2 separate regions of the Homo sapiens genome follow, and region 2 is linked to region 1. The links come from fine-mapping of genetic effects on gene expression. A gene starts in region 1. The other region holds a variant in brackets. All regions are shown on one strand. Distances are from middle to middle.

What was found. PIP is the estimated chance that this variant, and not a neighbour inherited with it, causes the effect.
Region 2: its variant is the best candidate, but not a certain one, in a credible set for the expression of NDUFA11 in spleen (GTEx, PIP 0.85).

The regions. Positions count from the first base shown.
Region 1 is chr19:5,900,674-5,906,040 of GRCh38, reverse strand. NDUFA11 (NADH:ubiquinone oxidoreductase subunit A11) reads left to right here and starts at 2,251. Exons shown (of 4, transcript NM_175614.5): 1 at 2,251-2,429. The coding sequence starts at 2,333. It overlaps VMAC (vimentin type intermediate filament associated coiled-coil protein), which reads right to left and starts at 1,169. Exons shown (of 2, transcript NM_001017921.4): 1 at 960-1,169. The coding sequence starts at 1,150. RefSeq lists a silencer at 986-1,335 and enhancers at 1,376-1,495, 2,069-2,363, 2,173-2,819.
Region 2 is chr19:5,875,561-5,880,927 of GRCh38, reverse strand. No RefSeq gene overlaps it. Among named protein-coding and RNA genes, the nearest start is that of FUT5, 7.7 kb to the right of the region's middle. The variant G/A (reference allele first, on the strand shown) is at 2,581.

The DNA.
Region 1 (5,367 bases):
TGCATTCCAGCCTGGGCAACAGAGCAAGACCCTCTCTCAAAAATAATAGATAGGCATGGTGGCTTAGCCTGTAATCCCAGCACTTTGGAAGGGTGAGGTGGGAGGACTGCTTGAGCCCAGGAGTTCAAGACCAAACTGGGCAACAGGGCAAAACTGTCTCTACAAAAAAATACAAAAAATAAGCCATGCGTGGTGGTGGACGCCTGTAGTCCCAGCTGCTTGGGAGACTGAGGTGGGAGAATCACCTGAGCTCCGGAGGTCGAGGTGCACTCCAGCCTGGGCATAGGAGTGAGGCCCTGCCTCAAAAATAATAAATTTAGGCCGGGTGCGGTGGCTCACCCCTGTAATCCCAGCACTTTTAGGAGGCTGAGGCGGGCGGATCACCTGAGGTCAGGAGTTAGAGACCAGCCTGCACAACGTGACGAAAACCAGTCTCTACTAGAAATACAAAAAATCGACCGGGCGTGGTGGCGGGCGCCTGTAATCCCAGCTACACGGGAGGCTGAGGCAGGAGAATCGCTTGAATCTGGGAGGTGGAGGTTGCAGTGAGCTGAGATCACGCCACTGCACTCCAGCCTAGGCGACAAGAGCGAAACTCCGTCTCAAAAAAATAATAATAAATTTTAAAAGTTAAAATGCTGATATGATCCCCTCCTCCCCTGCTGAAGAGCCTGCTATGGCTCCCAATGCCTACGCTGGGCGGTCTGTGGTCCCTGCGTCGCTCAGCACCTGTGGGAAAGTGGGCCTGTTTGAAGTTAGAGGTCCACACCTGTGTCACTTCTCGCAACTTTACATACTGATTACTAATTCGAGTTTTTTGGTGTTTTTATCAATCCGATACTCAGTCTAGCGTCTATACAAGTGCACACGGTTCCCCCTGCCCTTCCTCGCTTTCCAGCCTCGGCTCTGCCTCCGCCTACCGCCTCGGTGAAGTCCACCTGGCCGGCCCCGGGCCTCACCGGTCCTTGGCGCGACCCAGTTCGTCTAGGGCGGCGCGCAGCTGCTGGTCGTGGAGGGCCAGGCGCTCGGCTTGGGCGTGCACCGTGCGCTCCGCCGCGTCCAGCCGCGCCTCCAGCTCCGCTGCGCGCCGGTGCACGGCTGCCAGGTGTGCGTTTGCCTCCCGGATCTGCAGGGCCGGCGGCGCCGACATGGCCCAGGCTGCTGTACAGGCCCGGCCACGCCCCCAGGCGGCCCGGAACTGGCACAGGCCCCGCCCCCGGGAGGGCCCCGCCCCACTAGACCTCGGCGCGATTGGTCGCTGACCCCGCTAGACCCCACCCCAGAGGGCTGGGTCGTGCTCTCCTCAAACCCAAACACTACCACCGGTTCCGGGATCATGAAACTCCGCCCCTGAGTTTGGGCTCACTCTAGGATTGGACAAGATCTTGACAGCCACGCCCCCAGGCTGGCCACATCCTTTGGCGGCTCGCGCAACTCAGGCTCTGGAAACAAGATTGGTCACACCTTCGATACTGTCCCCTCCCTACTTGGAAGCTAACACCAGGATTGGCCCGGACTCCGCGAAACAGCAAGCCTGACCACGCCCCCCGAACCTGTGGCCTGTCAGGGGTAGATCCAGGCACGGCCTCGCCCCTTCATCCCTTATACAGTCTCAGATTGGTCAAGTCCCTTTTAGGTTATGCCTCCAATTCTAGCCACGCCCCCAAGTCAAGCGCCTGTGTACTTCATCCGGCCTAGGGCGTGGGACAGCCGCGGGGTGAACAGAGGCCACGTCCCGCTGAGCTTCTCGTATTGTCATTGGTCACTTTCCCGATAATCCCCGCCCCTGATCCTGTCCACGGCCCAAAACAGTAGCACGCTGCTCAGACTCCAGCTTGGTGACTGACCACAGGGCATGACCACTCGCTATGCAGATTCTGACACTGGGTGTGGCCACATCCCCGCCATGCCCCGCCCCCCAGTCATTGTTTCGTCATGTCTTGCTCCTATCAACTGGAGTCCCGCCCGTCCCAGTCTGAGCCCGGCCCCTCCCCTAGTAGATAGTCCCCGCCTCTAGTAGTCCCTAACCTAGGACTCCCTGAGCTGGGACTAGCGAAATCTGTCTGCACTGATCGCAGTCGTCCTCAGTTTCACCCTCTAGGAATCGGCCTGGGGATGCACGTGCTACTCTCTTCCTCCAGGCCGGTCCCCGGCGCGTGCGCGCGATCCATGTCCATGTCCGCGCCTATCAATAAAGTTGCTCACTTGTTGCCGGCCCGCTAGCCCGAAAGGTTGCGCGCGCAGCCCGAGAAGTCTCGCGATAGCCAGCCGCGGCTGCCCTTGCGCTTCCCGAGCTGGCGGGGTCCGTGGTGCGGGATCGAGATTGCGGGCTATGGCGCCGAAGGTTTTTCGTCAGTACTGGGATATCCCCGATGGCACCGATTGCCACCGCAAAGCCTACAGCACCACCAGTATTGCCAGCGTCGCTGGTGAGCGCCGGCCGGGCCCCGAGGGTGGAGGGCCGAGGCCGCAGGGAGGTCGTGGGGTTACTGGGGGCTGTTTGGATCGAACGGGTCTGGGAGTCTCGCGGGTACGCACGTGGTTGTCATCGGGGTGTCTTGGGCGGTCGTAGGGGGGGATCTTGTGTGAAATGGATGTTGGTAGGGGGTCCAGCAGGGTTGGGGAGCACTGGGAGGTCGTGACATGCGACAAGCTAGTCCCTGGGGTCATCTGAGGCGGTCCCAAGCTATCGCCAGGCTCGGGGAAATTGTGGAGTGAGACAGGGCTATTATCAGGTCCAAGGAGCTAAGGGACCACGAGACTTTCCAACGGGGTAGAGATTGTTAGAGGGGATCATGAGTCATGATTGGGGCATCTGAGGGCGGTACAGATGTTTGAGAAAGTTTTGGGGTGGGATGAGGTCTTTCTGTGGTCAGGGGGTGCTGGGTGGTTAGGGACACCTGAAGCTTTTACTGGGACCGCCAGAGAGGTCCTAGGTGAGGTGGATCAGGAGCTACTATGAGGGTAGCCTTGCAGGGGAATGAAGGGGACCCGCAAGCCCTGGCATTCTCCTTTTTTTTTTTTTTTTTTGAGACAGAGCCTTGCTCTGTCGCCCGGGCTGGACTGCAGTGGCGAGATCTCGGCTCACTGCAACCTTCACGTCCCTGGTTCGAGCAATTCCCTTGCCTCAGCCTCCCAAGTAGCTGGGATTACGGGCTCACGCCACCGCGCCTGGCTAATTATTTTGTATTTTTAGTAGAGACGGGGTTTCACCGTGTTGGCCAGACTGATCTGGAACTCCTGGTCTCAGGCCATCCGCCCATCTCGGGCTCCCAAAGTGCTGGGATTACAGGCGTGAGCCACCATGCCCGGCCGGCCCTGGCATTCTCTTATAGAGTAAATCTGAGTCTTGCCCCTTCCAGCCTGAGCGTTTCATGGGCATCATGCCCTTTAATTCTCAGCCACAGGTTGGGACTCATCAGGTCCCAGATGGAGCTGGAAGTCCTCTTCCCTCTGATGAAGAATCTTTACAAACTGGGCCAGGCGCGGTGGCTCACACCTGTAATCCGGCGCTCAGGAGGCCAAAGTGGGAGGATCGCTTGAGGCCAGGAGTTCCAGACCAGCCTGGGCAAAATAGCAAGATCCCCATCTCTGCAAAAAAGTAAAACAATTAGCTGGGCATGATGGTGCGTACCTGTAGTCCCAGCTACTCAGGAGGCTGAGACAAGAGGATCACTTGAAACCAGGAGTTCAAGGCTCTAGTGAGCTATGTTTGCACCACTGCACCCCAGCCTGGGCGACAGAGCGAGACCTTGTCTCAAAAAATAAAAATAATAGGCCGGGCATGGTGGCTCACACCTGTAATCCCAGCACTTTGGGAGGCGGATCATGAGGTCAGGAGATTGAGACCATCCTGGCTAACACGGTGAAACCCCGTCTCTACTAAAAATACAAAAAATCAGCCAGGCATGATGGCGGGTGCCTGTAGTCCCAGCTACTTGGGAGGCTGAGGCAGGAGAATGGCGTGAATCCAGGAGGCAGAGGTTGCAGTGAGCCGAGATTGTGCCACTGCACTCCAGCCTGGGCGACAGAGTGAGACGCTGTCTCAAAAAACAAAACAAAACAAAACCAGCCGGGCGCGGTGGCTCACGCCTGTAGTCCCAGCACTTTGGGAGGCCGAGGCAGGTGGATCACGAGGTCAGGAGATCGAGACCATCCTGGCTAACACGGTGAAAACCCGTCTCTACTAAAAATACAAAAAAAATTAGCCGGGCGTGGTGGTGGACACCTGTAGTCCCAGATACTCAGGAGGCTGAGGAAGGAGAATGGCGTGAACCTGGGAGGCGGAGCTTGCAGTGAGCCGAGATTGCGCCTCTGCACTCCAGCCTGGGCGACAGAGCAAGACTCCGTCTCAAAAAGAAAAAAAAAAAAAAACCCAAAGAAACAGTCTTTACAACCTGGTGTGTCTATAAGCTGAGGAATCAATTTGGTCAACTCTGTATTTCCAGCATATGTGAAACAGGGCCCGGCCAAAGTTGCGGCTCCATTGGGAGGCATTTGAATTAGGGCAGACCTAATCATCACTCCCATATTTTGCATATTTATTAATAGTAAGACAGACGTTATTGTGTCTCCATTTCTTACAGGTAGGGACTGAAGGTTGGAGAAGCATATTAACTGCTCCAGGGTCATTTGAAGCTGGGCTGCAAGTCCAGGTCGGCTGACCTGCTCCTAGGGGTCTCTGAAGCAAGGAATGTTCCCATCAGGTCCTTATCGAGGGTCTTCAAGAGAAAGGGCTGAAGGGGGCCACCCAGGGGATAGGATCTGAAACTGAGAAAGACGCGTATGTTGGTGTTCATGTGAGAGAGTGTGTGCATTCCTCATGTGTGAATACAAAATGAGTGGGCTGCGGTCTCAGGAGGCCTTTGGAGGAGACAGCTTGTCTCGGGGTGTGGTGCTGCTGAGTGAAGGGCCTCTGAGACCGGGGGTGCTCCCCAGAGGGTCTTAGAAGGGGAGGTCAGAACTTTTGACAGAGTTGCCATGTCAGGAGATCGCTGATGGCATCAGATTTAGATTTAGGGGTGCTCAGTGGCTTCTGTGAGCCCTCCAAGGGTGCCCCGGGGTCTTTGAGAGTGACATTCATTCTCCCTAAATTTTTCTTTTTTCTTTTTTCTTTTTTTTTTTTTTTTTGAGACGGAGTCTCATTCTGTCACCCAGGCTGGAGTGCAGTGGTGCGATCTTGGCTTACTGCAACCTCTGCCTCCCAGCAATTCTTGTGTCTCAGCCTCCCAAGTAGCTGGGATTACAGGTGCCTGCCACCGTGCCTGGCTAATTTTTGTATTTTTAGTAGAGACAAGGTTTCGCCATGTTGGCCAGGCCGGTCTCAACCTCCTGACCTCAGGTGATCCGCCCGCCTTGGCCTCCCAA
Region 2 (5,367 bases), 25 kb after region 1:
GCATTGATTTCTTCAAGGAGCTTTGTCCGGCATACAGCGCTCACTTAAGTGATGGCCGGGGCCCCAGCCTCCCTCCTGGCCCAGGGGGAGGGGCTGAGCGGGAAGTGGAGGTTAATTTTAGCCCTGATGACACCCGCTGGCCGCCTGCCTTGTCCAAACATCCCCAGCCAGGCGTGAGGTTCAAAGTGTCCCCCCACCCCCAGCCTCTGACATCCAAGGAGCCTGTTTATTCATTCTCGTCTGCGGCAGCATTCTTTGCCTGCCTGTGCCTGCCACCCGGCCTCCTCCATCTCCAGCCCTGCGAGGTCCTGCCCTGTGTCACTGGGGGTGAGGACTACCTCACCTGCAGATTCCCCTGAGGCAGGCTGTAATCTCTGGGGTGGTCGGTGGGGGGTGGGGAAGGGGCAGGGGGAGGGTCACTCCTGCCCCAGAGTCCAAAGATCTTCAGTCTTCGTTTATAATTCTCCAAGTGGGAGTTCAAGCTTCCATCACAGACAAGGACATTTATTCAGCACCTGTTTACTGAGTGCCTACTGGGTGCCAGGTCATACTGGGGACCCAAGCCCTGCCCCATGAGCCGCCCAATCTGGGGAAGACACTGACAAACCAAGAAATAAACAAGATCTTTTTTTTTTTTGAGACGGAATTTCACTCTTGTTGCCCAGGCTGGAGTGCAATGGCACAATCTCGGCTCACCACAACCTCCACCTCCCGGGTTCAAGTGATTCTCCTGCCTCAGTCTCCTGAGTAGCTGGGATTACAGGCGTGCACCACCACGCCCGGCTAATTTTGTATTTTTAGTAGAGAGAGGGTTTCTCCATGTTGCGGGGAGTGTATGGAGACGCCACCTTGGGAAGAGATGCGCCAGAATTTGCAGTCCTCTCCCTCCCTGTTGGAGTACCCTGGAGGATAGAAATTTTTCCCTACCCGGAGTCTCAGAATGTTCCAAAGACCTCAACTGGTCTCAAACTCCCAACTTCAGGAAGTCCCCCCACCTTGACCTCCCAAAGTGCTGGGATTATAGGCCTGAGCCACCGCGCCTCACCAATTTTTTTTTTTTTTTTTTTTTTGAGACGGAGTCTCTTGCCCAGGCTGTAGTGCAGTGGCGCGATCTCAGCTCACTGCAACCTCCGCCTCCCAGGTTCGTGCAATTCTTGAGCCTCAGCCTCCCAAGTAGCTGGGATTACAGGCGCTCACCATCCCGCCCAGCTAATTTTTCTATTTTGAGTAGAGACAGGGTTTCACTGTGTTGGCCAGACTGGTCTCGAACTCCTTACCTCGTGATCCACCCACCTCAGCCTCCCAAAGTGCTGGGATTACAGGCGTGAGCCCCTGTGCCTGGCCTATTTATTTTCGCTTATTTATTTATTTATTGAGTGAGTGAGTGAGACAGAGTTTTGCTCCGTCGCCCAGACTGGAGAGCAGTGGCGTGATCTCATCTTACTGCAACCTCCACCTCCAACCTCCACCTCCTGGGTTCAGGTGATTCTCCTGCCTCATCCTCATGAGTAGCTGGGATTACAGGCACCCACCACCATGCCCAGCTCATTTTTTGTAAGGCTCTGCCCTTGTTCTGAAGTCAAATCTCAACACTGTCTCCCTCTGGGAGGGGGAGTGACCAGAGGCTACAGCTGGGCTGAGGGACTGAGTGGCTGCAGGTGGATACCAAATATAAATTGAGGTCTTTGGAACATTCTCAGAGTCTGGGTAGGGGAAAATTTCTACTCTTCAGAGAACGCCAACAGGGACAGAGTGGACCGTAACTCCTGGTGCATCTTCCCAAGGTGAGTGGCATCTCCATACACTCCCTGCAGGGCTGGCCCAGGTGCCCAGGTCGCTGGCTCTACTGGCTGTAATTTTTGCCGATGGAGAGACAGGTGCTTAGAAACCTTGAAAACATCGCCTGAAAACAAACCAAGAAAATTATGCTTTTTGGCCCGGTGCGGTGGCTCACTGCTGTAATCCTAGCACTTTGGGAGGCCAAGACAGACTGATCACGAGGTCAGGAGATTGAGACCATCCTGGCTAACACGGTGAAACCCCATCTCTACTAAAAATACAAAAAATTAGCTAGGCGTCGTGGCGCGTGCCTGTAATTCCAGCTACTCGGGAGGCTGAGACAGGAGAATCACTTGAACCCAGGAGGCGGAGGTTGCAGTGGGCTGAGATTGTGCCACTGCACTCCAGCCTGGGCAGGCGACAGAGGGAGACTCCGTCTGGAAAAAAAAAAAAAAAGGAAAGAAAATTATACTTTTCACCTCCAGGTTCCAACAGACCACCTCCTAACCGTTTTCGTTCTCGGAAATACCTTCATTGGGCCGGGTGTGGTGGCTCACGCCTGTAATCTCAGCACTTTGGGATGCCGAGGCGGGCAGATCACTTGAGGTCCGGAGTTCGAGAACAGCCTGGCCAACATAGTGAAACACCATCTCTACTTAAAATACAAAATTTAGCTGGGCGTGGTGGCGGGCATCTGTAATCCCAGCTACTCGGGAGGCTGAGGCATGAGAATTGCTTGAACTCGGTAGTGGGAGGTTGCAGTGAGTCGAGATCGCACCACAGCACTCCAGCCTGGGCGAT[G/A]GAGCAAGACTCAGTCTCAGAAAGAAAGAAAGAAAGAAAATACCTCCATTAGCTTTTCTGATTCTAAAATTGCCACTCGCACACTTCACAAAACCTTTCCAGAATGAGAGAAAGGCCTCTTTGTTCCCCGGCCCCATGTATTCCCTGGAATTTTCTCTCCCCGGGCAGGGAGGTAAATGCTATTGTTATTTTTTCACACACAAGGTTTTGCAATGGGCTTTATTTCCACTCCACAATAGATGGCCCCACAGCTTTTATTTCTAGAAATTGGAAAATGAAGCGTGTCCAGCCCCCGCCTCTTCACCCACCACAGGCTGAAATTTAAGCTGCATGAACCCAGCTGGGCCTGGGTACCAGGGGTGGGCAGACCTCAGCGTGTTGGTGCCAGGGGACCCGGGGGTGAGGCCAGGGTCAGGTTTCTAGGGGGTGCCAGGTTTCTGTCACCGTCACCTGGGGCTTCCCGCACTCCCTGTCTGTTTAGTGGCCCCAGCACCATGTAGATGAGCAGGGAGAGGCTGAGTTCTTACAAGTATTACAGGAGGGGAAACCGAGGCCCGCAGAGGGCCAGGGACCCAGGCCAAACATTCCAGCCTGTAGAGGGGGTACGCAGAGACCCTGTGGGGCGGTGGGAGGATCAGCGTGACCTTCCAGGTCACCTCAACCTCCTGAAGAAGGTGCCGGCAGTGGCTCCACTCTACAGAGGAGGTGGCTGACGCCCAGAGAAGTTGAGGAACTCATCCAAGGCCACACAGCTGCCAGAGGTGAAAGTCGGTTTTCTGAAGATCTCAGGGTCAAGAACTCCAAAGTCAGGCAAGTCCCCCATAGAGCCCTGCTCCACCACTTAGGGGCTGCAGGTGGCTTCTGACTGTAAGTGAGGATATCTGGAACATTCTAGTGTTGGGGGAAATTGCTGCTCTCTGGAGAATGCCATGGGGGACCTGGTGGTGCAGGGTGGTGGTGACTCCCAGGTGCTATCTAAGCCTCGGTTTCCCCATCTGTACAGTGGACATGCAGAGGTGCCTGTGATGGCTCCCCCAGGCCCAGGTAGAAGGGTGGAGGGGCATAGGGTGGGGAAGGTGTGGGGGGCCTGAAGAGTCTCTGCTAAGCCCCCTGGTGACTCCGGGCCTGAGCCAGCCTTGCTGGGCCCATCACTCACCTGCCACACACACCACCCACCTGGGCCCCTCTCCCCACCACCTGGCTGCAAGCCAGGGGTCCTGGGAGGGGGATGGGGCCCTCGGCAGGCCAGGCCAGGGCTTCCTAACAGGCTGGGGCAGGCCCAGTCCCCAGGGGGTAAGAGGTGTGGGGACAGGCTGCTCTGTCCCCTGATGCCCCTGGAGCCCCCGTGGTCTCCGCCTCTCCCTGAGCTGATGTCAGAGTGAACAGCTCCCTTTCCCAACTTCTCTTTCTCTCCCTCTGGAATTTCCTCTGAGGCTTAGAGGGACATGGAAACCCTCCTTGGGTTCCACAAGGGCAGAAGACCAGCCACCTGGCCAACATTGGGGGACCCTGGCCTGCCCCCTCTGGAACACCAGCACTGCCCTCAACCCCCCATTGTCTCCCCATGTGCCCCAGATCTCACATGTGGTTCATGGTGCACCCAGCCCAGCCTATGGGGCCTTCTCCCTCCTCCTGAGCGGCAGCTGCCCTTGGCTCCCAGCCCTTAGGCCCCAAGGGGAGAGAAATTTCCAGCAGGCTGACAGCTTTATCACCCACCCAGCCCAGGCTGAGGGAGGAGCTGGGGTGTCCAATGAAGACCAGGACCCCAACGAGGGGCACAGATGGCCTCACCGCACCCCCCAAGCAAGTCTCAGCTCATCTGAGCCAGAGGGAAGAGATCCTCGCGGCCTGAGCCTAGAATCAGGGGCACGGGTGGTTGGAGGAGCCAGTAGAAAGGATGATCTGGCTGGGAGGGCAAGAGAGCCCCTATCTGGGGAGGCTCCCTGGAGGAGCTGTTTTCACCGAGCCCTGAAGGATGACTGGGAATTAAGCAGGAGGCAGGGGGCAGAGAGTACAGCTGTCCAACTGAAGACAGCCTGGTGCGATTGAGACTCCCAGTGACTTGAGTAGTGAGCGCCCTCTCTCAGGACCTGTCTTCACATCCACAGGACAGCTGTGTGGGATGGAAGCGTTGCCGGTCCAGGCTTGGCTGGGGCTCCAGGACAAAGTCACACCAAGACTGAGAGCCCCATGAGTTATGTTTTTTTGGGTTTTTTTCTTTTTGTGATGGAGTCTCACTCTGTCACCCAGGCTGGAGTGCAGTGACCCAATCTTAGCTCACTGCAAACCTCTGCCTCCCGGGTTCAAGTGATTCTCCCGCCTCAGCTTCCAGAGTAGCTGGGATTACAGGTGTGCACCACCACACCCGGCTAATTTTTGTATTTTTAGCAGAGACGAGGTTTCACCATGTTGGCCAGGCTGGTCTCAAACTCCTGACCTCAGGTGATCTGCTCACCTCGGCCTCCCAAAGTGCTGGAATTATGAGTGTGAGCCACTATACCCAACTTCTATGAGTTATGTTTTAATCAGTCACAGACAATGCCCCCAGCGAGGACATGAACAGAGAACAGACTCAGGTCATCCCTTCTGGAAATGGCTTGCCTGGGAGACCGCAGTCCCTGGCCCAGCCCTGGCCAGTCGATCCTCCCCACTGGCCTGGGCCTGGCTGGGAACTGAGACGGTGAAAGTCTGGGGCAGCATGAAACGGCCTCCTGGAAATTATTTCTAGAACAGGGAAGTCGTGATACCTGAAGGTGAAATGTGGGCTCTGTCACCTCTGTACCCAGC